Linked DNA regions of Homo sapiens. The protein of the gene in region 1 purifies or fractionates together with the protein of each later gene. This does not show direct contact. Each region holds a gene or a part of one and is shown on either strand. Other genes may lie near its edges. The genes, in order: SLC27A6, ADCY9, CREB3L2, TMEM201, ADCK2, TUSC2 and AREL1.

Region 1 (3,500 bases):
AGGAGCAATAACCCATACCACAGCGCCTAGGTGTGTAGTAAACTATGTCATCTAGGTTCGTGTAGGTACACTCTATGATGTTCACACAACAACAAAATCACCTAACACATTTCTTTTGTTTGTTTGTTTGCTTTTGTTTTTTGGAGTCTCACTCTATTCCCCAGACCGGAGTGTAGTTGCACGATCTCAGCTCACTGTAATCTCTGCCTCCTGTGTTCAAATGATTCTCCTGCCTCAGCTTCCCAAGTAGCTGGGATTACCAGTGTCTGCCACCACACTCGGCTAATTTTTGTATTTTTAGTAGAGACGGGGTTTTGCCATGTTGGCCAGGCTGGTCTCAAACTCCTGACCTCAGGTGATCTGCCTGCCTCAGCCTCCCAAAGTGCTGGGATTACAGGCGTGAGCCACCACGCCTGGCCCGTCTAACACATTTCTAAGAAAAGTATCCTTGTCATTAAGTGATTCATGACTGTATATACTAGCTAACATCAAATAAGGTTGTAGCTGCAAAATCCAAATGAGATCCCTTATTAAAAGCCCCAGGATTACTCTATAATCATAATAGCAATCATTTAAATACAATAAGATCTACTTAGTACATACCAGGCACTCAGCTAGCCACTTTACAAAAGATGTGTCATTTAATCCTCAGAATTATACTGTGAATCAGATGGTATCATCACCATTTTACAACTAAGTTCAGTGAGATCCAGGGTAACTGATGATATTATCTTTAACCATACAGCCAGGAAGTGGCAGACCATACATGGAATTTGGGTCTGTCTGGCTTACCTCCGTCTGAACCACATGATTCATCTTTCTACCTCAATATACTCTCCCTGGGGGTATAATGATTTAATAGTACACCATCAGAAACATCCAATGAGAATCCAAGAAATCTGAAATTTAATGTGCTAAAAAGAGTATGTTTATATTGTTCACAAATGAGACTCCAGATGCCAACAACACAGTATTTTAAGTATAAAAGTGACTATGATCTAAGCTACATCTTATTACAAAATCTGTTAATCAAAATAGAATTTTTCCATCTTTGGAAAACATATATCTCATTTATATTTGAAGGTATGCCAGAAAGAATGGGTGACTTCTCCAGTGACCTACTTACCGAGCCAATCAACTAAATAGTCTTGGCTTAAAACTTCAGTATCCCAAAGTGGCTTTTTTAAATACAAAAAACTGACTGTTGGTGTTAAAAACAAAAATAAGAAAACAATGCAATTAGTTATTGGCAAGCAAAGTAAAAGCTGGCACAAGTAAAACTGCAAAATTAATTGGTCCTAGTTAAACAACAATTCGGTCAACAGAAAAGCCTGAATGCTCTATCTTGAGAAGTAGCCAGTCCTATGTACTTTAAGACGAATCTCTCAGGAAACCGGCTTTGGAATGTCTCCATTTTTTCAGGGACACTGTGGCCCTCTTGGTTGGCCCTTGTAAACAGAACTTACGGCCTTATCAATTATTAGCAAAACTTGGAGTTTACATTTGCTCCTAGACCCTTTCCTCCCGTAATGAAAACAAGATTAAAATGAGTGCTCAGAAGTAAACCTTTGTGTTTTTATTGTTCCAAGATAGCTGAATAGGAACAGCACCAGTCTATAGCTCCTAGCGTGAGCGACGCAGAAGACAGGTGATTTCTGCATTTCCAACTGAGGTACCGGATTCATCTCATTTGGACTTGCTGGACAGTGGGTGCAACCCACAGAGTGTGAGCAAAGTAGGACAGGGCATCGCCTCACCTGGGAAACACAAGGGGTCAGGGAATTCCCTTTCCCAGCCAAGGGAAGCTGTGACAGACGGTACCTGGAAACTCGGGATACTCTCACTCTAATACTGCACTTTTCCAATGGTCTTAGCAAACAGCACACCAGGAAACTATATCCCGTGCCTGGCTTGGTGGGTCCCACACCCACGAAGCCTTGCTCACTGCTAGCACAGCAGTCCGAGATTGAACTGCGAGGTGGCAGCAAGGCTAGGGGAGGGGAGTCCACCACTGCTGAGGCTTCACTAGGTAAACAAAGCAGTGCGGAAGATCGAACTGGGTGGAGCCCACCACAGCTCAAACCGGGCTGTGTGCCTCTGTAGACTCTACCTCTGGGGGCAGGGCATAGCTGAATAAAAGGCAGCAGACACTTCTGCAGACTTAAACGTCCCCATCTGACAGCTCTGAAGAGAGCAGTGGTTCTCCCAGCAGGGAGTTTGAAATCTGAGAACCGACAGACTGCCTCCTCAAGTGGGTCCCTGACCCACGAGTAGCCTAACTGGGAGACATCTCCCAGTAGGGGCCAACTGACACTGCATACAAGCAGGTGCCCCTCTGAGACCAAGCTTCCAGAGGAAGGATCAGGCAGCAACATTTGCTGTTCTGCAGCCTCCGCTGGTGATACCCAGGCAAACGGGGTCTGGAGTGGACCTCCAGCAAACTACAACAGACCTGCAGCTGAGGGTCCTGACTGTTAGAAGGAAAACTAATAAACAGAAAGGAATAGCATCAACACCAACAAAAAGGACATCCACATGAAAACGCCATCTGTAGGTCACCATCATCAAAGACCAAGGGTAAATAAAACCACAAAGATAGGAAACCAGAGCAGAAAAGCTGAAAATTCTAAAAATCAGAGTGCCTCTTCTCCTTCAAAGGATCACAGCTACTTGCCAGCAATGGAACAAAACTGGATGGAGAATGAATTTGATGAGGTGACAGAAGCAGGCTTCAGAAGACCGGTAATAACAAACTTCTCCGAGCTAAAGGGGGATGTTCGAAACCATCACAAAGAAGCTAAAAACCTTGAAAAAAGATTAGATGAATGGCTAATTAGAATAAACAGCATAGAGAGGACTTTAAATGACATGATGGAGCTGAAAACCATGGCACGAGAACTGCATGATGCATGCATAAGCTTCAGTAGCCAATTTGATTAAGTGGAAGAAAGGGTATCAGTGATTGAAGATCAAATGAATGAAATGAAATGAAACGAGAAGAGAAGCTTAGAGAAAAAAGAGTAAAAAGAAAAAACAAAGCCTCGAAGAAATATGGGACTATGTGAAAAGACCAAATCTACGTTTGATTGGTGTACATGAAAGTGATGGGGAGAATGGAACCAAGTTGGAAAACACTTTTCAGGATATTATCCAGGAGAACTTACCCTACCTAGCAAGGCAGACCAACATTCAAATTCAGGAAATACAGACAACGCCACAAAGATACTCCACAAGAAGAGCAACCCCAAGACACATAATTGTCAGATTCACCAAAGTTGAAATGAAGGAAAAATGTTAAGGGCAGCCAGAGAGAAAGGTCGGGTTACCCACAAAGGGAAGCCCATCAGACTAACAGCTGATCTCTTGGCAGAAACTCTACAAGCCAGAAGAGAATGGGGGCCAATATTCAACATTCTTAAAGAAAACAATTTTCAACCCAGAATTTCATATCCAGCCAAACTAAGCTTCATAAGTGAAGGAGAAATAATATCCTTTACAAA
Region 2 (3,500 bases), on another chromosome or scaffold:
CAGGACAAGGAAGGCCATGGGTAGCGTGGGAAGGAGTTTGCATTTGACCCCATAGGTGTCAGGGAACCACTCAACAGGGGGCTTAGGTGATCTGACTTGCAGTTTTAGAAAGTTCACTCTTTCAGAGCTAGTGAGTGTGGGTTGGAAAGAGATTAATGAGGTGTCGAGTAAATCCCAGGTAGGGGTGATGGTGGCCCAATCCAAAGTTACAGTAGCAGTGATGGAGGTGATGGGATCTGAGTGGCATTAGGAAGAGCAGCTTGATGGGACTGCAAGCCAGATTTAAACAAACGACTGGCAGGAGGGGAAGGGCTTGACCATGTGAATGGGAAATGGCATTTTAAGTTTCTGGAAGTGACTTGGCGACAATGTGGAGTCAGGAATGGGTGAGGGGCCTTTGAAGTTGCTATGGTATGAATGGAGAATGCAGGATGGACTTGCAGAGTACAGAGGCCCGGAACCCCTGGCTTGCTTACTCATTCAGCAAATCATTTACTCCGTGCCAGGCACGGTTCTGGGTTCTGGCAATACAGCCGTAAACAAAACAGACAACAATTCCTGCTCTTGTAATAGGGGACAAGAATTTTTAAGTCAATAATATAGGAGGATCGCTGGAGCCCACGAGGTCGAGGTTGCAGAGAGCCGTGATTGCACCACTGCATTCCAGCCTGGGCGACAGAGTGAGACCCTGTCTCTAAGAAACAAAAACCAGGCCTTCAAATAGGGGAGATCTAATAGAGGGGACAACAGGGGAGTCAAACCATAAATAAGTAAAATAGAAAAAGTGTTTTGTGAACAAACATAAAGCAGGAAGGGGATACAGCAGATGGGGTGTACGAGTGTGAGAAATCTTATCTAGGGTGGCCAGTCACTGGGAGAAGGTTGCAGGAATTTTTAGCATACTGCTAGGATTTTGGAAATAATCTAAAAAGTGAGGGGCCAGGCATGGTGGCTCATGCCTGTAATCTCAACACTTTGGGAGGCCGAGGTAGGCGGATCACCTGAGGTCAGGAGTTTGAGACCAGCCTGGCCAACGTGGTGAAACCCCATATTTACTAAAAATACAAAAATTAACCAGGTGTGGTGGCAGGTACCTGTAATCCCAGCTACTCGGGATGCTGAGGCAGGAGAATTGCTTGAACCTGGGAGACGGAGGTTGCAGTGAGCCAAGATTGCACCATTGCACTCCAGCCTGGGCGACAAGAATGAGACCCTGTCTCAAAAAAAAAAAAAAAAGTGTGAGGGACAGTTATTAAAGATATGGAGAAATGGGCCGGGCGTGGTGGCTCATGCCTGTAATCCCAGCACTTTGGGAGACCGAGGTGGGCAGATCAGGAGGTCAGGAGTTTGAGACCAGCCTGACCAACATGGTGAAACCCTGTCTCTACTGAAAATGCAAAAATTGGCTGGGTGTGGTCGCAGGCGCCTTTAGTCCCAGCCACTTGGGAAGCTGAGGCAGGAGAATCGTTCGAACCCAGGAGGTGGAGTTTGCAGTGAGCCGAGATCGTGCCATTGCACTCCAGCCTGGGCGATAGGGCGAGACTTTGTCGCCAAAAAAAAAAAAAAAAAAAAAAAAAAAAAATGAAGAAACGGTCTGATTAAGGTGAGGGACCTTCCACAGCATTTGGGATGAAACCGCTAGGCCTGAGGGAACCGTGGCTGTTGTATTCTGCCTTGGGCCACAAGCAAAAAATGGTGAGACGTGTTATCTCGAGCTGTTGGCTTTTCCTGTCATAGATACAGGGTCACAAAGACAGAAAATGAAACTGTTAGAAAATATCTACAGGCATCTTCTTTTCCCGTGTAAATATTAGGAAGACAGAATGAAGATGCTCCTCCGCTCTCATCCACACCCATGGTCATATCTCTGAAGAGGGGAATACCAGGGAGTGATCACATTGTCAGATGCAGAAATTAAAAAAGCTTTTTTCCCCAGCCAAACTTTATGCTTGTGGAGCAACTTGGGGAGGAGACCCGCTGGTATGCATTTGGGCAGATTGTCACCTGTTGGCCACCTCTGTGATCGAGACCTTTGCCTTAGAGGAGTTCCTATGTAGACCCTGTCTGGTGGGCCGACAGACCGACAGTGGACGGAGGCATTCTGTATGCGTTAGCCTCTGCAAACAAACACCTGTCTCATGCCGGAAATCTGGGCGCCCCATTAACCCTGAGCACGGGCCTGCCAGCTGACAGAACCCTAGCCAGGTGTTGGTTTGGGGTTCAGTTGCATGCTCAGGTGTTCCCCTTCCTTCCCCCGTTAGCTTGTCCCCACCTAAGCCTGCAACCCTTGCCACTGGGATGCTAACCCGTTAGCAGAGCTCAGTCTCCTTGCTTGGAAATTCTGTGTTGACCTGCACTGCATTCTTTTTTTTTTTTTTTTTTTTTTTTTTTTGAGACAGAGTCTGGCTGTGTCACCCAGGCTGGAATGCCATGGCGTGATCTCAGCTTACTGCAACCTCTGCCTCCCAGGTTCAAGCGGTTCTCCTGCCTCAGCCTCCCAAATAGCTGGGATTACAGGTGTGCGCCACCACGCCCGGCTAATTTTTGTATTTTTAGTAGAGATGGGGTTTCACCATGTAGGCCAGGCCGGTCTTGAACTCCTGACCTCAGGTGATCCACCAGCCTCAGCCTCCCAAAGGGCTGGGATTACAGGCGTGAGCCACCACGCCCAGCCTTGACCTGCATTCTTGAGCAGGATCTGTTATGCACGTGGAAATACAGCCTCTCAGATAGCAAATGGCAGAGATGAGATGAGGCACACAGTTCCCCTCCACAGCTGGGGTGGGAGACAGAAAACAGCAGTAGAGTCGACACTCAAGCTGCCCCCAGTGACCATTTGTTCAGGCTCTTTGAGACCTGGCTTACAGTGACAAGGACACAGCTGTTAATTCTGAAGACAAGCTTTCGAGTAGAAGTAACCTCTGGTAAAGCAAGAGAAGGTTAAGGTTTGCTGAATTGCCAATGGGATGAAGAAGGAAGGGAGGGCTGTCTTTTCAGGTAGAATGCCTAAGGAAGGGAAACATGGAGAAGGAACAATTAGAGCAAGTCAAGAAGTTTCAAGATTTTTGTCTTCTGGCCAGCTTGGTGAGATAGTAATTATGTTTCTGCATATTGGTCAGCGTTGCCTATGTACTTTGCTGTGGAATAGTAATCTTGGAAAAAAACCAACCAACCAACCCACATTAATCTGTCCATGTCTGGGCACAGAGTGTGCAGAAGCCTGCGTGGGCCGTAAGTCTCGTCTTTGTCTTGGTTGGTGATTTTAGTATTGGTGTTTTTGCTGGAATTCCAAAACTGTAAGAGTGTAATCATTCACCATTAGAATTCTGCAGGTCCCCTCCTGACTCTGGACTAGCTGAGCTTAGGGGCCTGTCATCCATCTGGCCCTGGGCATATCATTTGTACTTTGCCTGTGACACACCTCAAGACCTTTTCCAACAGGAACTAGCATCCCTGGAGGGAATTTTGTGAAGAGATGAGAGTTTTTGAAACAGGAAGGG
Region 3 (3,500 bases), on another chromosome or scaffold:
AGAGTGTGTACATATGTGTATTGTGGATGTGAACATGAGAGCATGTGTGCATATGTGTTTGTATATGTGCAAGAGTAGCACGTGTGCATGCGTGTGTGTGTAGCAGGAGTGGGTGGGTGGAGTTTGGCCATGCTGAGCATCTCAGCACAACTGCACTTTCACTGTGACCTCCTCCACTTTTCTGCCATCCCTGGTTCTGGATTCTATCCTCTTCCTTCCCCATCTTCCATTGGTAGCGCAATCAGCTCTCAGTCCAGTGACACTTACCTATTAGTGTTCTCTAGAACCTCTACCTTCTTCCGAAGCTCCAAGTTCTCAGTTGAACAAGACTCCACTCTACAAAGGAGGGAGAAAGAAGAAAATTATTATCCATAGAGCAAACACTAAGCTAGGAGCTAGGGTGGAGGTAGGTGGGGATGAGGAAAAGGAGGGTTGGGGGGATCTGCCACCCCATGGAAGTGTGGGAAAGTATTGAAAGAAGGATGAAGAGACTTAAGAAAAAAAAAAAAATAGGCCGGGCACGGTGGCTCACGCCTGTAATCCCAGCACTTTGGGAGGCCGAAGCAGGCGGATCACAAGGTCAGGAGATAGAGACCATCCTGGCCGACATGGTGAAACCCTGTCTCTACTAAAAATACAAAAATTAGCTGGGCGTGGTGGCACGTGCCTGTAATCCCAGCTACTCGGGAGGCTGAGGCAGGAGAATCGCTTGAACCCAGGAGTCAGATGTTGCAGTGAGCCAAGATCGCCACTGCACCCCAGCCTTGTGACAGAGCAAGATCTGTCTCAAAAAAAAAAAAAAAAAAGAAAAATAGAAGGAGCTGGGGCCGGGCGTAGTGGCTCATGTCTATAATCCCAGTAATTTGGGAGGCTGAGGCAGGCAGATCACTTGAGGTCAGGAGCTCAAGAATAGCCTGGCCAACATGGTGAAACCCCATCTCTACTAAAAATGCAAAAATTAGCTGAGCATGGTGGTGTGTGCCTGTAATCCGAGCTACTTGGGAGGCTGAGACAGAAGAGTCACTTGAACCTGGGAGGCAGAGGTTGCAGTGAGCCAAGATCATGCCACAGCACTCCAGCCTGGGCCACAGAGCGAGACTCTGTCTCCAAAAAAAAAAAAAAAAAAGAGGGAGCTGAGTGATGAGTGCCTGAATAATGAAAGATGAATAGTGACAGTACAAAATATGACCCTCTTTTAGGGTGTTACAACCTCTTTCCTCTCACCTCCTCCCTAGTGTTCTCAATGCCCATCATACTTCTCCCTCTATACTACAGTAATCTGGATACTCCCAGCTACACTCTTACCAGGACTGATAAGAAGTGAAGAGACTTAAGCAAAGGGCAGGACGAGAGCCCAGGACTAGGAATCCTGGTGCTGGGGCACGCATGCCCAAAAGAGACAGTAAAGAGACTTTCATAGGAACATCTTGACCCTGGATGCCCATAGAAAATGGTGGGACAGCATGGGACTACAGTCTTCCCACGGTATTCAGGGGGGATTAGTTCCAGAACTCCCCACAGATACCAAAATCTCCAGATGCTCGAGTCCCTGATTAAAAAATGGTGTAGTATTTGTATATAACCTTTACATATCCTCCAGTATATGTTAATCATCTCTAGGTTATTTATAATACCAAACACAATGTAAATACTATGTAAATATGTGTTATCTTGTATTTATAGTTGTATTATTTTTTATTGTTGTAGTTTTTTTTTATTGAGTTGTTTGGTTTTGGCTTTGGTTTTTTGAGACAGAGTCTCACTCTATCATCAAGGCTATAGTGCAGTGGCACAATCACAGCTCACTGCAGCCTCAACTTCCTGGGCTCAAGTGATTCTCCCCTCTCAGCCTCCTGAGTAGCTGGGACCACAGATGTGCACCACCATGCCTGGCTAATTTTTTTTTATTTTTTAGGGGGTCTGGCTATGTTGCCCAGGCTGGTCTTGAACTCCTGAGCTCAAGCAATCCTCTCACCTTGGCCTCCCAAAGCACGGGGATTATAAGAGTGAGCCATCACACCCAGCCTATTGAAGTTTTTTTCTGAATATTTTAGACCCATGGTTGGTTGAATCTGAGGACGCTGAACCCCCAGATATGGAGAGCCAACTATACTTAATGCTGCATTACCAGTACTTAAGTCAGGTGATAGAAGCACTAAACTTTCAATAGTAGCTTTGAGAAACAGCCAGGAACCACCAGCCACTCCTTTCCCCAGATCCACATGAAGTTCATTTCTGGGTCTGGGGCCTCATGCCCATCTTAAAAATATCTTGGTTTGTTAGCTAAAGAACTAACTTCCAGGGCTAAGACAAAACTGTATTTAATTCATCTTTTTCTAACAGCCCGCCTGATATTACAGACTTTTCAAAAGAACAAAGATTGCCTTCAAGTGTTTTTGCAAAAAAAAAAAAACATGAATTGTAGTGGCTGGAAAATAAAGGCTGCCAACCTGACATCTTTCTTTCCCTATGTGCCCTCTCTAGAGCATGAAGGAGTGTGGCCAATGGGGGCTGATTAAGTAGCACTGCTCCTTTCAGCTAAAACAGGGCTTCTCCTGCTAGAAGTTCCAGGAATGTGCAGGAATGTTAATATTTGTATGTGTTTGAAAAGAAGTCTGTGAGGACTCCGGGGTCCTTGGCTGGCAGTGGTATGATTCAAACACCTACTAAGGTACTTTCACTTCTTTCTTGCTTTATTATAGACGTCTCCTCCAAATAACCACTAGGTGGCAGGCAAACCACAGCTGATAAACCACCGGGTTTCCAAGGTGGCCAGAAAGAGGAATTGAACTGCTTCTCCCCGATTCTCCGCACACCCATATTTCCCTGTGCATACTGCCCGATGAACGCAACAGTTTGCCAGCAGGCTTACTTTTTCTCCAGGCTGTCCATGTATTCTTTCTTCTTTCTCCTACTTTCCTGAGCAGAAATCTGAGAGAGAGGAGTGGGAGGAGAATGATTAATTTCCAGCTCTGTAAGTAAACCAGTTAAGATGGGAGGTGGTTAGCGTAGAAGTCACCAAAGCCCTGCTTACTTCTGCAAGCTGCTTGCCATTTGTTTAAGCTGCTGGTTCATTGACTAGTCTGTCCTCCCGGGTTTCTAGCTGCCAAACTCACACCTACTTTCCTACAAACCAGGCCACCAGTAAAATGGACACTGAGTGGCCAGGAGCAGTGGCTTACACCTGTAATCCCAACACTTTGGGAGGCTGAGGTGGGCGGATCACTTGAGGTCAGGAGTTCGAGACCAGCCTGGCCAACATGGTGAAACCCTGTCTCCATTAAAAATACAAAAAAATGGCAGGCGCAGTGGCTCTAGCCTGTAATCCCAGCACTTTGGGAGGCCAAGGCGGGTAGATCACCTGAGGTCAGGAGTTCAAGACCAGCCTGGGCAACATGGTAAAACCCCGTCTACTAAAAATACAAAAATTAGCTGGGCGCGGTGGTGCATGCTTGTAATCCCAGCTAATTGGGAGGCTGAGGCAAGAGAATCGCTTGAGT
Region 4 (3,500 bases), on another chromosome or scaffold:
TCCCTGGGGCGCACCCTTTCTGCAGCCCAGGATCAAGGACCTCGTGGGGGAGGGGTGGTCCTCGAACCTGGTCCCAGTCAGCCCTGGTTTGGCCAGCCCTGGCCCCTGTTGTGCTCCATGTGTGAGCCCCAGGCCACCAGGAGCAGGTGGCCCTGGGTCCCCGTGCGGCCGCACTGGAGCCTAGGGATCTGCTGAGGCTCCAGCTGGCCTCCTCCCCTTGAAGACTGAGAAGCCCAGGTTGGCCGTGGCCTCCCTGTCTGGTCCTGGGTGGATGCAGCCGTACCTAGTCTGCGTTCCTCTCCTTCAGAGCCCTTGTTCCTCCTGCTGTTCTGGGGCCAGCATCTCCAGCTTTGCATCCCCAGATCCCAGATCCCACTCCCAGCACCCTTTCCCTGGTGGCCCTGGGGCAGGGCATGGAGGTCCCTCTCCAGCAGGTGCTGGGGTCTTCCAGGCCAACCCGCTCTTTCCTTGGTCCACAGGATGAAGCCAACGCACACGATGGTCAACTGCTGGTTCTGCAACCAGGATACGCTGGTGCCCTATGGGAACCGCAACTGCTGGGACTGTCCCCACTGCGAGCAGTACAACGGCTTCCAGGAGGTGTGGGTCACAGGCAGGCGGACGGGTGGGCACGCGGGGGTGGGGATCTTGAGATTTGCACCTTGAGACCACCCTGTGTCCCTGCCCTGCCCCGGGGCTCATGGACCCCACACCCTCATACCCTGTCCTCTCCAGGCCCTGAGCATGGTGTTTCGTGTACATTGTCTCACTCGATTCTCACCACTGCCCTGGCGCTGTCTCCTCACTTGAGGAGGAACCCGACGCAGGGAGCCATGGCAGTTTGTCCAAGGTTACACCACTAAAAGTGGCAGATTTGGGGTTCACACCCAGGTCTTTCTGGCTCTGCATCTCATTCTCTGTACTATATCAGGGCTAGCAAACCTTTTCTGCAAAGGGCCAGATAGTATTTTAAGCTTTGGAAGCCATTTGGTCTCTGTCACAACTGCTAACCCTGCTGAGCCACCGTAGGTAATACAAGAGTGAATTAGCCTGGCTGTGTTCCAATAAAACTTGATTGCAGAAACAGGCAGCTCCTCCACGGGTCATAGTGTGCTGTCCCCTGGACTAGACCAGGGTTTGCAGACTGAGTTCCGAGAGGGTAGGGCTCTGAGGACAGATGCTGGCTAGAGGTGTGTGGGTGGGCGGCGGGCTGCAGGCCCTGCTCTGTGCTCAGGCTAGGTGGCTTCACTCGGCATCTGGGCCTTTGGGTTCCATGGAGGTGTCTTGAGAAGAAAAGCAGCTGCTGTTGTGTGCAGAAGAAAAAAAAGAATGGAGATGTTTGAGATCTACCATCACTTGCCTGGAGCGGGGCGGGCCCCCAGGGACATCACCAAGCCTGAGCCAGCTGGGAGGGCCTGCCTGCCTCGAGTCCCACCTCTCTCCCGCAGAACGGCGACTACAACAAGCCGATCCCCGCCCAGTACTTGGAGCACCTGAACCACGTGGTGAGCAGCGCGCCCAGCCTGCGCGACCCTTCGCAGCCGCAGCAGTGGGTGAGCAGCCAAGTCCTGCTGTGCAAGAGGTGCAACCACCACCAGACCACCAAGATCAAGCAGCTGGCCGCCTTCGCTCCCCGCGAGGAGGTGAGGCCGGGTTGGGAGGGCAGGGGTCCTGGCTGGGGCCAGGGATGCTTAGAGCAGCCGGGGGACAGGCACGTGCAGGGTGCTGACTCTGGTCCTCTGGCCCCTGCTCTGCTAGACAGCGGCTTTTCTGTTCTGAGTGCCCAAAGGGGCCCCCTCATCCTTGCCACTGCCAGCACATTCCAGGATGTGTTAGTTCTTCTGACCCCGTTGGAGCTGAGCTGCTTCTCCCCATGTCTTACAGTCACTGCTATCGGGGTTCCAAGCCTAGGAACACCGTGGAAACCCCAGCACCTGCCAGTCCAGAGGAATTTGTCCCTGGGCAGAGGGAGGAAGGGACCTTGGGTTCCAGGTGGGGCCCTGTTGGACCCACTCTGTCCTGTTTCTCTGAATCAGCCTTGCCTGCTGGTGGCCCCGGCAGTCTGCTGTGGGGTTGGTGGAGGATGCCACTGGCTTCTGGGAGGAGGAGGAAGCTAGACATTGCTGAGAGGCTTGGCATTAAGGAGCTGGGCTGAGCTGGGAGCCTCACCTTGCCTGTGCCCTCCATGGAGTCCAAGAGCCTTGCTTACTGGCTGCTCCTTCCTGCCCTCGGCCAGCCCAGGGAGTCCTGTCACCTCAAGAGGCAGGTCCCAGCTGGGGCCCAGAGACACTGGCTTTCCTGGGGTCCAGCCTGGGAGGGAGGGAGAACAGAGGTGAACTCAGGCCAAGGCAGGGATGGGGAACCTGCGAGAAGGGGAAGGCAGGGGTGACTTGGCAGCCAGGCAGCTTTTCGGCATGCTTGGTCGCAGCAAGGGATCACACTCCTGACCCTCCTGGCCTTGCAGGCCAAAACGTTTGCTTCCTCAGAAACAGGGAGGGAGAGTTGCAGTGCTGCACGTCTAAGGGCTGAGAAGGAGGGGACTTGTCTTCTGGGCTATTTCAGAAGCTGAAAGAAACCTTCACCTGCCACAAAGACAGGCCTGGCCAGGGGCTCTCTAGCATTCAAGCGGAAGGGCAAGCGCCACAGTCGGGGTTGTCCATCTGCCCCACTCCAGGCAGTGTCAGCCCGCAGCCACCTTCCCCCATGTTCACCCACCTTCTTGGAGCTCTGCATCTGGGGAGCAGACCCTGAGCTCCTGGCCTGCGGGTGCGTCCCTGGAGCAACAGAACCTTGTTAGTGTCCCCATCACTTGTGGGCCCTGCCCTGGATTGGCTCTAACTCCCGGTAGTCCACATGGCTCTACACAGTGGGCATTTGTCCTGTTGGGCAGAGGGGAAGCAGGTTCAAAGTGGGGTTGACTTGCCCCCGGTCATCCCCTAGTAAGTGGCAGGTCAGGATCTGATTCCACGTCTGACCTGTAAGATGGAGGCAGCTCATCCACCCCTGCAGATGCCGAGCCTGTTCCCCCAACCCCACAGGGCAGGTATGACGAGGAGGTCGAGGTGTACCGGCATCACCTGGAGCAGATGTACAAGCTGTGCCGGCCGTGCCAAGCGGCTGTGGAGTACTACATCAAGCACCAGAACCGCCAGCTGCGCGCCCTGTTGCTCAGCCACCAGTTCAAGCGCCGGGAGGCCGACCAGACCCACGCACAGGTGAGAGGCGGCATCCACAGGGCGGGGGTGGGGGTGTTGAGTTTGTTCAGGAAACCCTCCCAGGAGGCTGGGCACTAGTGACCAGAGGGTAGCTCTTCAGAGCTGAGCCCCTTTATTTTTATTTTATTTTATTTTATTTTTGAGATAAAGTTTTGCTGGGATTACAGGCACACGCCACCACGCCTGGCTAATTTTGTATTTTTGGTAGAAACGGGGTTTCTCCGTGTTGTTCAGGCTGGTCTCGAACTCCCGATCTCTGGTGATCCGCCTGCCTTGGCCTCCCAA
Region 5 (4,116 bases), on another chromosome or scaffold:
GAAATATTTATTGGGCTCAGTGAGTATTATTGAATGAATGAATATGGCCTTTCCGGAGCCTTTCCCCAAGGTCCAACACAATTGCCGAATTAATGCAGCCGAGGACACAGCATCCAGTTCCTACTCCTGCAGCCCAGTTACCCCCATCCAACACCACCCCCCTACCCAACCCCCGCTGAAAAGCGGACCTGTGTTCAGAACCTGCCTTCATACTTTTCAGCCATGCTCTTTGGAATAATGAAAGATACGAAGAAGTCAGTGGGAAGATAGACATGGGGAGGGGGACATAGAGGGTGCCTTTGCGTTTTGCTACCCAGGACCCAGGACTCAAGGGCAGGGTGGTCTTGGCCTGGGGTCGCCGTCCTCTTTAAGGGGCGGGTCAAGGGACCCTGGCTGCCCGGGCCTCTGCCACCGACCCTCTGCTCCCTCCGACCCTCACCGCCCAGCACCCAGCCCTCTGCCCCCACCGGCCACCCTGTAACAGCCCAGCGGGTTCACCTTGCCTGCTGCCTAGACAGAGCCGATTTATCAAGACAGGGGCATTGCAATAGAGAAGGAGTAATTCACACAGATCAGGCTGCGCGGGACACTGGGCAGAGTTTTTAAGGACAACTTGGTGGGTGGGGGAAGGCCAGTGAGTCGAGAGTGCTGATTGGTTGGGTCGGAGGTGAAATCTTAGGGAACTGAAGCTGTCCTCTTGTGCTGAGTTAGTTCCGGAGTGGGGGCCTAAGATCAGATGACCTGGTTTATCGATCTGGTAGGTGTCAGTTGATCCATCAAGTGCAGGGTCTGCAAAATATCTTGAGCACTGATCTTATTAGCAGTTTAGGGAGGGTCAGAATACTGTAGCCTTGCTGCCTGACTCCTAAATCATACTTTCTAATCTTTTGGTTAATTTGTTAGTCCTACAAAGACAGTCTATTCCCCAGGCAAGAAGGAGGTTTGTTTTCAGAAAGGGCTGTTATCATCTTTGTTTTAAACTATAAAGTATAAACTAAGTTCCTCCCAAAGTTAGTTCAGCCAACGCCCAGGAATGAACAAGGACAGCTTGGAGGTTAGAAGCAAGATGGAGTTGGTTAGGTCAGATCTCTTTCATTATCTGTTATAATTTTGCAATGGCGGTTTCAACCTAGTGGCCGAACCCGTCCCATCCATCTCCCGCGCCCCTCCGCTCCACCACAGCCCTCGGTGCCTCGGTTCCCTGCACCTGCACTCCCGCCCGCCCCCGACGCTCCGCCCCCGACGCTCCGCCCGCCCTCCACGCTCCGCCCCGCCCTCCCGGCCCCCGCCTGCGCCCGCGCCCTGGGCTGGTGCCCGCCACCCCAGCGATCTCATACTGGCCCCTGGGCGCACGGTGACCCTGCGGCTGCCCGGCCCCTGCCTCCGCCCGCGCGGCCCCCTCGCTCAGGTCGCGGGCGCCCGGGGCCTGGCTTCGCGTGGGTCCTGGCTCCTCCCGTTCCGCAGTTGGTGCCGTCTGACAGCCCCTTCCGCGCGGCGCGGCGCGGCGCGGCGGGTGTCGGGCGGGGCGCGGGCCTCCGGCCTGAGGCCCGGCGAGGTGCTGGAGGGAGCGGGGCGCGGATCCGGCCCAGATGGGCAGCTCCGTCCGCGGGGTCAGGGCCGGGCTTCGGCTTCACCGCAGCCTCGCCTGAGCGGGCGCCTCTGAAGTGGAGGGCGGGCCGCCTGGGCCGCGGGCCTCGGGAGGATGGTGGCGCCCTGGCGCGTCTCCGTCAGGGTTTGCCTGTCGCACCTGAGGTGCTTCGAGCTCAGACAGGGACTCAGCCTCCTGAGGCCCTCCGAGTGCCCTCGCGATGCCAGGCTCTGCTGGCTTCTGCTGGGCACTTTGCCCAAGGTCGTCTCCCTGTGCGGGGACGTGGGTGAGGGGGCCCCTGACGTTCTGAGTCGGCGAAGGGTCCGCTGCAGCGGGGCGGCTGGCGCGGGGCCCGCGGAGAGCCTCCCCCGAGCGGGACCTCTGGGCGGCGTCTTCCTGCATCTCCGCCTCTGGCTTCGCGCCGGCGCTCTGTTGGTGAAATTCTTCCCCCTCCTACTCCTCTACCCCCTCACCTACCTGGCTCCCAGCGTCTCCACCCTCTGGCTCCACCTGCTTCTGAAAGCCACCGAGACCTCAGGCCCAACCTACATCAAACTGGGCCAGTGGGCCAGCACCCGGCGCGATCTGTTTTCGGAGGCTTTCTGTGCCCAATTTTCCAAGCTGCATGTCCGAGTGACGCCCCACCCGTGGACTCACACTGAGCGCTTCCTTCGGCAGGCTTTTGGGGATGACTGGGGGAGCATCCTCTCTTTTGAGAACCGGGAACCTGTGGGCTCAGGCTGCGTGGCCCAGGTGTACAAAGCATACGCCAACACTGCCTTCCTGGAGACTGACAGCGTCCAGAGACTTGGCAGGGCCTCCTGTCTGCCGCCCTTCTCACATACTGGGGCAGTCGGTGGGCTGAGAGAGCTCTTTGGATACCTTGGAAATGGCCGGAAACCTCCAGAAAATCTCGCAGACCAGTCGTTTCTAGAAAGGCTGCTCCTCCCTAAAGCTGACCTGGTTGGATCAAATGCAGGGGTGTCTCGGGCTCAGGTCCCTGGCCACCAACCTGAGGCCACCAACCTCATCTCCGTGGCAGTGAAAGTAAGTGTTGTGAGAGCTCACAGCTCACCTACCCACTGAGCTATCCCAGATCAGAAACAACCGCCATGCAAATCGCCCCCACGTTTATTTCTATTTGCCTGACCAATATCTGAGTGCTTATTTCATGCAAGCTGTTTCATTTATTGGCTTGAAGTGGCGGTGTGAATAGTCTGATAGAGGAAAATGAACTGAGTCTGGAGTGAACTAACTGCTTGGGTGTCGGGACCACATCCTCTTTTCTTTGATAAGAAGCCACCTGGCTCTTGCTTGGATGGTGGGACCCAGCCCTGGCTGGGTAAAATGTGTCCAGCAGGTTTCTCCTGTCTCACGGTTCCTCTTTCTGACAGGTGTTGCACCCTGGCCTGCTCGCTCAGGTGCATATGGACCTGCTGCTGATGAAGATTGGCAGCCGAGTCCTGGGAGTTTTGCCAGGCATCAAGTGGCTTAGCTTGCCTGAGATTGTGGAGGAATTTGAGAAGCTGATGGTCCAACAGGTGAGTTCTCCTCCCCTCAGCTGTAAATAGCACCTAACATAGTTCTTGCCATTAGCTGCTACTTAGTAAATGTTGAATGAATAATTTTCTGGTATGTCATAACTCATGTGATGTGTTAGAGCTGGTAACACTAGCTGATAAAGAACATCCAAATCTCAGTGGCTTAATGCAACAAATTAATTTTTTGCTTATATCAAAGTTCTGGCCGGGCGTGGTGGCTCATGTGTGTAATCCTAGGACTTTGGGAGGCTCAGGCAGGTGGATCACTTGAGGCCAGGAGTTCGAGATCAGCCTGGCCAACATGGTGTAACCCTGTCTCTACTGAAAATACAAAAATTAGCTGGGCGTGGTGCTGCATGCCTGTAATCCCAGCTACTCAGGAAGCTGAGGCATGAGAATTGCTTGAACCCAAGATGGAGGTTGCAGTGAGATGACATCATGCCACTGCACTCCAGCCTGGCGACAGAGTGAGACTCCATCTCAAAAGAAAAATAAAAACAAAAAACAAAGTTCTATGCAGGTGAACTGAGGCAGAGAAAGGGAGCTCTTTATTTTATTATTTTAAAAACAGAGACAGGGTCTTGCCATTGTTGTCCAGGCTGATTTTGAACTCCTGGGCTCAAGCCATTCTCCCTCCTCGGCCTTCCAAAGTGCTGAGATGACAGAACTAAGCCACCGTACGGTCAAGAGAGGGAGCTCTACTCCCTAGTTTCAGGGGACTCAATTTCTTCCCAAGTTTGGCACTGCCTCCTTCAACATGTGTCATCTGGGGTCAGTGTGGATTGGAGGCAGAGGCCATGCAGGGTCATGTAATAAATTTTGTGGCCAGGCCTGGAAGTGGCAAACATCACTTCTTTCCTGTTCACTGATCAGAGCTGTAACTGCCTGGGCCCAGTGTAACTGTGAGCTTGGGAAATACAGTCTTCCTTTGTGACAAGGAAATGATTCTGGTGGAGAACATCTAGCATTATTTCTGCCATAATCAAT
Region 6 (3,942 bases), on another chromosome or scaffold:
GTTCGAGGCCAGCCTGGCCAGCATGGCGAAACCCCATCTCTACCAAAAATACAAAAAAAATTTAGCTGGGCGTGGTGGTGGGCGCTTGTAGTCCCAGCTACTCAGAAGGCTGAGGCAGGAGAATCGCTTGAACCCGGCAGGCAGAGGTTGCAGTGAGTGGAGATCACACCACTGCACTCCGATAGAGCAAGACTCCAACTCAAAAAAAAAAAAAACGGCCGGGCGCAGTGGCTCAGGCCTGTAATCCCAGCACTTTGGGAGGCCAAGGCGGGTGGATCACCTGAGGTCCGGAGTTCAAGACTGCCTGACCAACATGGTGAAACCCCGTCTCTACTAGAAATACAAAAAAATTAGCCGGCATGGTGGCAGATGCCTGTAATCCCAAGTACTCGGGAGGCTGAGGCAGGAGAATCGCTTGAACCCTGGAGGCAGAGGCTGCAGTGAGCCGAGATCGTGCCACTGCACATTATCCTGGGCGACAAGAGTGAAACTCCATCTCAAAAAAAAAAAAAAACAAAACCATCCCTTCAACACACACACACCACGCTCTGGGAGAAGGTGTGGCATAACTCCTTCACCAAATACAGAGCTGCCACCGTGGACCAGACACTGCTCGTGATACCGAGGGTATAGCTGTTAACAATTCTTGCTTTCATTAAGCATGGACTCTGCTGGGTTTGAAAACACTGAATTCGAAGTTCTTCAGAACTGAATGTAACTATGTGAATCTGGCCAGTTCCTTAATTTTCTTTCAACTTGGTTAGTTCACATAAGCGTGGCAATCGCAAAAATACAGCTGTGAAAATAGAAGCCAGATGGGCACCCGGCGGTCTGGCCTTAGGCCCTGAAGTGCAGGTTTGAGGATTGGTGCTTGCGAAGTCCTGCTAGGCCTGAACTCAGGTGTTGGGGGACGTCAGAGCCGCCAAATACACCCAAAAGACCGGGAGGACTCACGGCCACCACTTTCCTCGGTGGGAGCTGTCCCAGCTGGTCAGATCGCGCTTGCTGGGACCTGGGATCTCGCAACGCATGCTGGGATGCCCAGCATCTAAGGGCGCCCATTGGTCCCGCCCCCACGACTTGAGCAACAGCCAATCAGAGGTGGCAGCGTGCGGAAGCGGAAGTGAGGTTTCCGTGGAGACAGCCGAGCCTGCGGAAGGCGGCGGCGGCGGCACCTGCGATCAGCGGCTGGGGCAGGTTATGGTAGTGCGGACTGCGGTGTGAGCAGAGCGGCCACGGGGCCCGCCATGCGCCGGCGGCCCTGACATGGGCGCCAGCGGGTCCAAAGCTCGGGGCCTGTGGCCCTTCGCCTCGGCGGCCGGAGGCGGCGGCTCAGAGGCAGCAGGAGCTGAGCAAGCTTTGGTGCGGCCTCGGGGCCGAGCTGTGCCCCCCTTCGTATTCACGCGCCGCGGGTAAGGGCATGGGTTCCACCCTGGCGGGGGGAACAGGCGGGCGGCCAGGCGTCCCGCGCCACGGGGGAACTTCCACCGCTGTACCCCACTACAGCCAAGCCAGGACGACCCCCATATTTTGAGCCTCATTGGAGCTGGGGGTGGAGAAAGCCGGGCAGTGGTCTCCTGGCGGCCTGGCCACTCTGAAAGTCTCCCTAGGGAAGAGTGGGCCTGAGGCTTGTCACTGGTCGGACCTTCCGCACGGTAAAGCTAAGCTAGGGCCTCCATAAGACCTCCATAAGATCTCTTCCTTTCATCCCTTCCGGCTCAGCCTGCATACTGAAGGGTCCTAGCCTCCCTTTCCCCCCCAGTTATTCCAAGGGGATAATAACCCTCTGTTTAGGCTGCTTTTCCTGACAGTAGTGGGGCTGAACCTTTGAGCGTAGTGGCTGGGAAAGCAGGGATAGGCCTCAGTATTGGGGGTGAGGCTGAGGAAAAAAGACCCTCACCCAGTTATGTTCTCCAGATCCAGAGCGCTGACCTACCCACCCAACCCCCAGCCCAGTCTCCCAGAGGCCCGCACAAGAGTACCAGATTGGCTTGGCTCTAGTGGGCTCCTGGAGATGGGCGCTCCCTGTGCTAGAGATTTGGCTGTAGACACCAGGAAGACCCAACAGTGGCAATTCACCAGCCACCTGGGGTGTGGGGTCAGGGGAGACGCAGCCTTCATTCCTTTGTGCTTCTTCCTAGCTTAGGCTTCTGCTATTTCAGTCTTTGACACTGGGCCAGCAGCATCTTCTGGAGTGAGACCAACATGCCCAGGCCACCACCCTGCCCACTCTAGAAGTCCTGGGTGAAGGCAAAGTCCTGATATTAGAATGGCTGCCCTTGCTGAACAAATCAAGGATGAGAACTGGCCTTGGTGGCTGCCTGGATGGTGTGCTCTGGTGTGGGCTCTCTTCTTGGGGGTCTGACATAGTAGCACTGCCCACCCATCACCTCACTTCCCACTTTCTTCTAGTAGACCCCAAACCCCAGGCAAAGGATTCTCCAGGCAGGCCAGGCACCGTGGCTCACGCCTGTAATCCTAACACTTTGGGAGATGAAGACGAGTGGATTGCCTGAGTTCAGGAGTTCGAGACCAGCCAGAGCAACATGGCAAAACCCCGTCTCTACTAAAATACAAAAAATTAGCAGGGTGTGGTGGTGCATGTCTGTAGTCCCAGCTACTTGGGAGGCTGAGGCAGGAGAATTGCTTGAACCCAGGAGGCAGAGGTTGCAGCAAGCTGAGATCGCGCCACTGCACCTCCAGCCTGGGCAACAGAGTGAGATTCTGTCTCGAAAAATTTTTTTTAAAAAAAGGATTCTCCAGGCATATTATCCTCTTTTCTTCCCACTTGGGGTTGGGAAGACCACAGACTTCCCCGTGACCTGTGACATTTGCCATGCCCAGGTGTGGGGCTCCAGCCCAGCCTGTTTCCTTCTCCCTCTACACAGCTCTATGTTCTATGATGAGGATGGGGATCTGGCTCACGAGTTCTATGAGGAGACAATCGTCACCAAGAACGGGCAGAAGCGGGCCAAGCTGAGGCGAGTGCATAAGAATCTGATTCCTCAGGTGAGGGGCTGGGCAGCGGTCACAGAGCCTACACTAAGCGTGTGGAGGTGGACCCAGATGGGATCTGTTGTCATGGTGGGGGCTTTTGCGGGGGGATCTGGGAGGAACAAGGAAGCTTCCTGAAGTAGAGGCCCTGAGCTGACCCTTACTAGCCTCTGTTTCCATGGCAGGGCATCGTGAAGCTGGATCACCCCCGCATCCACGTGGATTTCCCTGTGATCCTCTATGAGGTGTGACCCTGGGAGGTGGCAGACAGAAGCACCCCCTGCCCCGGCAAGAAACTCCCAGGCTCAATCAAGGTGTGGCTTCCATTGAGGAGCCCAGGCTGGGGCCACAACCCTGAATAAACTCTGTTGGCCCATAACCTTCAGCTGTGAGCGGGTCGGTCCCACAGTATTGGTTGGGTGTTGGTTTGTGTGTGGACAAGAGGTGGTTGGTGGGTGGTGAAGGCTAATGGCAGAGTTAGCACCCCACTCTCCCAAGCCACCCCTGCAAGCAGCACAGCAGGGCATATACCAGTCAGGAATGCCCGTTACCTGGTTCCTTGCCTGGTCTGCTTTCTTCCAAGTTTGCCTGGGGCCTAGCCCTGCTAGAGGCTACAGCACTTTACAAGCAAGGTATGCTTTCTTCCAGCCCCTAGGCTGTGGGCACTGTATACAAGTAGGAACTTCCTTTCCTTCACTTCCCTTTTAACCCCTAGTCAGAGCATTTCAGCCGTTTGCTACCTCGATTCCTCCTGTGTTGGACAGAGGCTGGGGGCAGTGCCAGCCTGATTCTTCCGACCTACCTGCCATTTGTTCCCGCCTTCAGATGGATGGACAGTTTGCTGGCTATTGATAGGAGTGGGGACTGGGTGGGGGCTTCTCCCTCTACCCAGGGCTGGGCTGATCCCCCTACTGCAACTAACTGTTGCCCCCCAACCCCGAACCCCCA
Region 7 (3,500 bases), on another chromosome or scaffold:
TTTGTCTTCTTTAGTATGTGTTTGAAATTTTCTTTAAACTTTTTTTTATCAAGAAAACAACTGACCTGCACATTCAGATAAAAGGGATTTTTTAAGATTAAAAAATTTTTGCATTGTCTTTTCCTCTTTTGTATGAACTTTTTTGTGTGAGGACCTTCCCCTATACCACCAACATATTCCACTCCAGCTCACCCCATCTTGCCTCCCTTCCCTGGCAGATCCTTGGCACCATTCAAATAGGTATAAAGCAGTGTGTATGGGTTGCTGGTGTTTGCTATCCAGTAACTTGGAGGAAGTCATTCTGAGCATCATGGGGCTGAGCAGAAGGAGATTTTGATTGTTTCTAGGTGAAATATTCTGTTCTCATAAAGTGAAAACCTGATCCCAGATATTTAGAAAGACTTGAGTATTACAATTATGAAATATCTCTGTGTGAAACTGCATTGTCAGTCATATTTTTTTTATTTATTTTATTTTTTGAGACAGGGTCTCACTTTGTCACCCATGCTGGAGTGCCATGGTCCAATCTCAGCTCACTGCACCCTCTGCCTCCCGGGTTCAAGCGATTCTTGTGCCTCAGCCTCCCGAGTACTTGGGATTACAGGCATGAGCTACCGCACCCAGCTAATTTTTTTGTATTTTTAGTAGAGACTGAGTTTTGCCATGTTGGCCAGGCTGGTCTTGAACTCCTGGCCTCAAGTGATCTGCCTGCCTCGGCCTCCCAAAGTGCTGAGATTATAGATGTGAGCCATCCACACTTGGCCATCAGGGTAATATTTTTAATTTGCCTTTTTAAATAGAGAGTTAATGTATTTATTTGACTTTAGTACTCACTAAATTATTACTTTTGTCCATGGAGAGGAAAGGTTATGAGAAATGTAAATAGGGACTATGATATTTGAATTAGAATACCCAAATAGAGCCTTTTTATTTATCATTCACTTCATTTCCTGTCTGTTGGTCCTCCAGCAATTCTCAGTGAAGGAGTTCTACCTGAAGATCATCCCCTGGCGCCTTTACACCTTCCGAGTGTGTCCAGGAACAAAAGTAAGCTGAACCTTACATCTGGTTCACATCAAGCATGCTTCATCTCTGGACTATCTCAGCCTTTTATTTTTTCTCAGAAGCACTTTTAGTGTTTCTGCAAGATCTCACAGTGTACACAGGATTCGTTGCCAAATAAAGCATCATTATCTCCTCACTAAATGGCATGAAGAATATATAAATTCTGGAAGGACGCATGCCTACAGAAACAGGAATTAGCAGCAACTCAGAATACTTCAACAGTGATCCTTTGCCTTCAAGACTAAGTTAATAGAGAAGATGTTTGTAACTCTGGCCCAAGCTTGGTCTCCCAGTGTGCTGAAGCTAACTCCTTTTAGAAGCACCACTCTCATATATTAAAATACATTGTTTGTTTGTTGTTAACTTTTCTGGGCTTCTGGAATCTAAACTTTTGCCCAAAGGCTAGAATGTGCCATTTTATAAAAATAGTTTTCTTCTGATCAGTTTGGAGTAGTCATTTATTGCTGTTTAATATATCCTTACTATTGCTATTTAATATATCACCGTATTGCCATTTATTGCTATTTAACATATCACCCTTCTTATATTTTATGTTAGAAGGTCTGTAGTTTTGCTGGTGGTCCTAACTAAAGGCAGTCTCTGTGACTAAAATAATTTTAAATGTTGAAATGTAAATCACTGAAGGGAAAAATAATGAAATGTATTTCTGGTAGGTCCTCATTTGGAGAAAACAAGCCTAACTTATTGTTGTTGGTTGGTACACAGGATAGAGCTGTGGAGGACTTTTACTGGCCTTGAGGGTTTTATAGATTAATTTCTTTGTTTTTCTTTACCAGTTTTCATACCTTGGTCCTGACCCTGTCCATAAGCTGCTCACACTGGTGGTGGATGATGGCATTCAACCTCCTGTGGAGCTCAGCTGTAAGGAGAGGAACATTCTAGCAGCCACTTTTATCCGCTCCCTGCATAAGAACATAGGTGAGGTTACACAGGGATTCTATAGGGAAGGTAGTGAGCCCAGCCACATCCATGAGGGTGGAGAGGCAGGACTACACAGATGGCTTGTAATGAGGCTGTAATGATGGATCTTGCTGTTCCCCAGGAGGCTCTGAGACCTTTCAGGACAAGGTGAACTTTTTCCAGCGAGAGCTTCGGCAGGTACATATGAAAAGACCACATTCCAAAGTCACCCTGAAGGTCAGCAGACATGCCTTGTTGGAATCGGTAGGTAAAATTTCATCTCTGTCAGCAGATACCAAAGTTTTCCAATTGAATGTCTATATTCTGCAGGTTACTGTTTTTGTTTTTGTTTTTGTTTGGGAGATAGGGTCTCACTCTATTGCCCAGGCTGGGGTGCAGAGGTGCGATCATGGCTCACTGCAGCCTCGATCTTCCCGGGCTGTGATCCTCCCAACTCAGCCTCCCAAATAGCTGGGACTATAGGTATGTGTCACCATGCCTGGCTAATTTTTGTATTTTTTGTAAAGATGGGATTTTGCCATATTGCTCCGGCTGGTCTCGAACTCCTGGACTCAAGTGATACACCCGCCTCAGCCTCCCAAAGTGTTGGGATTACAGGCATGAGCTACCATGCCTGATCTGGTTATCTTTTTCATGAAACTTAAATTTCTCTGTTTAAGTAAAGATATAGATATACTTATAAAAGACAGATATACTTATAAAAGACAGATATACTAAATTTCTGAAACCTAAATTTCTCTCTTTACATATGTCTGTTCTTCTATTTGATTCTACTAAATTTGGGGCAGTTTTGTTGGAGGTATGTTATCGAGGGAAGAGCAGTTTACTTACTGGCCTTCAAATCTACTGAATGGGTCCCTTGGAACTCCCATGTAGGGCAGGTGTAAATAGTGATTACAGAAGAAACTTCTTGTTATTGAATCCCTGGAATAGAGCGCTTGTTGAATTAAAAGGAAATGATTTTTGTTGTCACTTTGGTCTGATGGAAAAGGAACACCTGATGTGTGTCTGTCTCCACTGCACAGACACTGGCATAGTTCTTACATTCCCCAGGAATGAGAAGGCTTGGTTCCTGTCCAGAAAGTGTTTGTGATGTTTGGCTCTGGTAGGTGTGACTGGAAACCCGTTTTCTCAGCCATATTCTCCGTGTGGCATGGCTCGCTGTCTGAACCTAGCCTTGTGGATAAATATGTCTAGTGGATAGATCATACTTTGCTGAAAACCAGGATTCCTTGGTTCTTTTGCCTACAGCTTACTGACTTGAGTCATTTTTTACTTCTTTATGCAAGAATGTTTTCATTGCTAAAACAAGGATTGTTTAAAACAAAAGGAAAAGAAAAAAACAACTTCAGCTTTCCAACAAAGTGATGATGTAAAGGCAAATCAGATTATTTTTTAAAACTTTAAATTTGAAGTTATGTGCATTTTAAATGTCAGGTGGTATCATTAAAGCTTGTTTATGAGTAACATATCTCCTTCAGGCAGTCGTAGTT

What was found.
Region 2: the proteins of SLC27A6 (region 1) and ADCY9 purify together in Homo sapiens (affinity purification with mass spectrometry; one large-scale study listed by BioGRID and IntAct). This does not show direct contact.
Region 3: the proteins of SLC27A6 (region 1) and CREB3L2 purify together in Homo sapiens (affinity purification with mass spectrometry; one large-scale study listed by BioGRID and IntAct). This does not show direct contact.
Region 4: the proteins of SLC27A6 (region 1) and TMEM201 purify together in Homo sapiens (affinity purification with mass spectrometry; one large-scale study listed by BioGRID and IntAct). This does not show direct contact.
Region 5: the proteins of SLC27A6 (region 1) and ADCK2 purify together in Homo sapiens (affinity purification with mass spectrometry; one large-scale study listed by BioGRID and IntAct). This does not show direct contact.
Region 6: the proteins of SLC27A6 (region 1) and TUSC2 purify together in Homo sapiens (affinity purification with mass spectrometry; one large-scale study listed by BioGRID and IntAct). This does not show direct contact.
Region 7: the proteins of SLC27A6 (region 1) and AREL1 purify together in Homo sapiens (affinity purification with mass spectrometry; one large-scale study listed by BioGRID and IntAct). This does not show direct contact.

What each region holds. Positions count from the first base shown.
Region 1 is NC_000005.10:128,971,988-128,975,487, reverse strand, and holds part of SLC27A6 (long-chain fatty acid transport protein 6), read right to left. Parts: intron 1-3,500. UniProt on the Homo sapiens protein: Mediates the import of long-chain fatty acids (LCFA) into the cell by facilitating their transport at the plasma membrane.
Region 2 is NC_000016.10:4,106,443-4,109,942, reverse strand, and holds part of ADCY9 (adenylate cyclase type 9), read left to right. Parts: intron 1-3,500. UniProt on the Homo sapiens protein: Adenylyl cyclase that catalyzes the formation of the signaling molecule cAMP in response to activation of G protein-coupled receptors.
Region 3 is NC_000007.14:137,901,087-137,904,586, forward strand, and holds part of CREB3L2 (cyclic AMP-responsive element-binding protein 3-like protein 2), read right to left. Parts: intron 2,932-3,500; coding exon 2,873-2,931; intron 337-2,872; coding exon 268-336; intron 1-267. UniProt on the Homo sapiens protein: Transcription factor involved in unfolded protein response (UPR).
Region 4 is NC_000001.11:9,595,411-9,598,910, forward strand, and holds part of TMEM201 (transmembrane protein 201), read left to right. Parts: intron 1-479; coding exon 480-600; intron 601-1,448; coding exon 1,449-1,643; intron 1,644-3,038; coding exon 3,039-3,215; intron 3,216-3,500. UniProt on the Homo sapiens protein: Critical regulator of angiogenesis and endothelial cell (EC) migration. Promotes the migration of endothelial cells, which is essential for angiogenesis.
Region 5 is NC_000007.14:140,671,629-140,675,744, forward strand, and holds the start of ADCK2 (uncharacterized aarF domain-containing protein kinase 2), read left to right. Parts: upstream 1-1,316; 5' UTR 1,317-1,702; coding exon 1,703-2,635; intron 2,636-2,982; coding exon 2,983-3,129; intron 3,130-4,116. UniProt on the Homo sapiens protein: The function of this protein is not yet clear. It is not known if it has protein kinase activity and what type of substrate it would phosphorylate (Ser, Thr or Tyr).
Region 6 is NC_000003.12:50,325,424-50,329,365, reverse strand, and holds the start of TUSC2 (tumor suppressor candidate 2), read left to right. Parts: upstream 1-1,142; 5' UTR 1,143-1,266; coding exon 1,267-1,412; intron 1,413-2,888; coding exon 2,889-3,009; intron 3,010-3,179; coding exon 3,180-3,245; 3' UTR 3,246-3,942. UniProt on the Homo sapiens protein: May function as a tumor suppressor, inhibiting colony formation, causing G1 arrest and ultimately inducing apoptosis in homozygous 3p21.3 120-kb region-deficient cells.
Region 7 is NC_000014.9:74,671,581-74,675,080, reverse strand, and holds part of AREL1 (apoptosis-resistant E3 ubiquitin protein ligase 1), read left to right. Parts: intron 1-969; coding exon 970-1,047; intron 1,048-1,862; coding exon 1,863-2,004; intron 2,005-2,128; coding exon 2,129-2,250; intron 2,251-3,500. UniProt on the Homo sapiens protein: E3 ubiquitin-protein ligase that catalyzes 'Lys-11'- or 'Lys-33'-linked polyubiquitin chains, with some preference for 'Lys-33' linkages.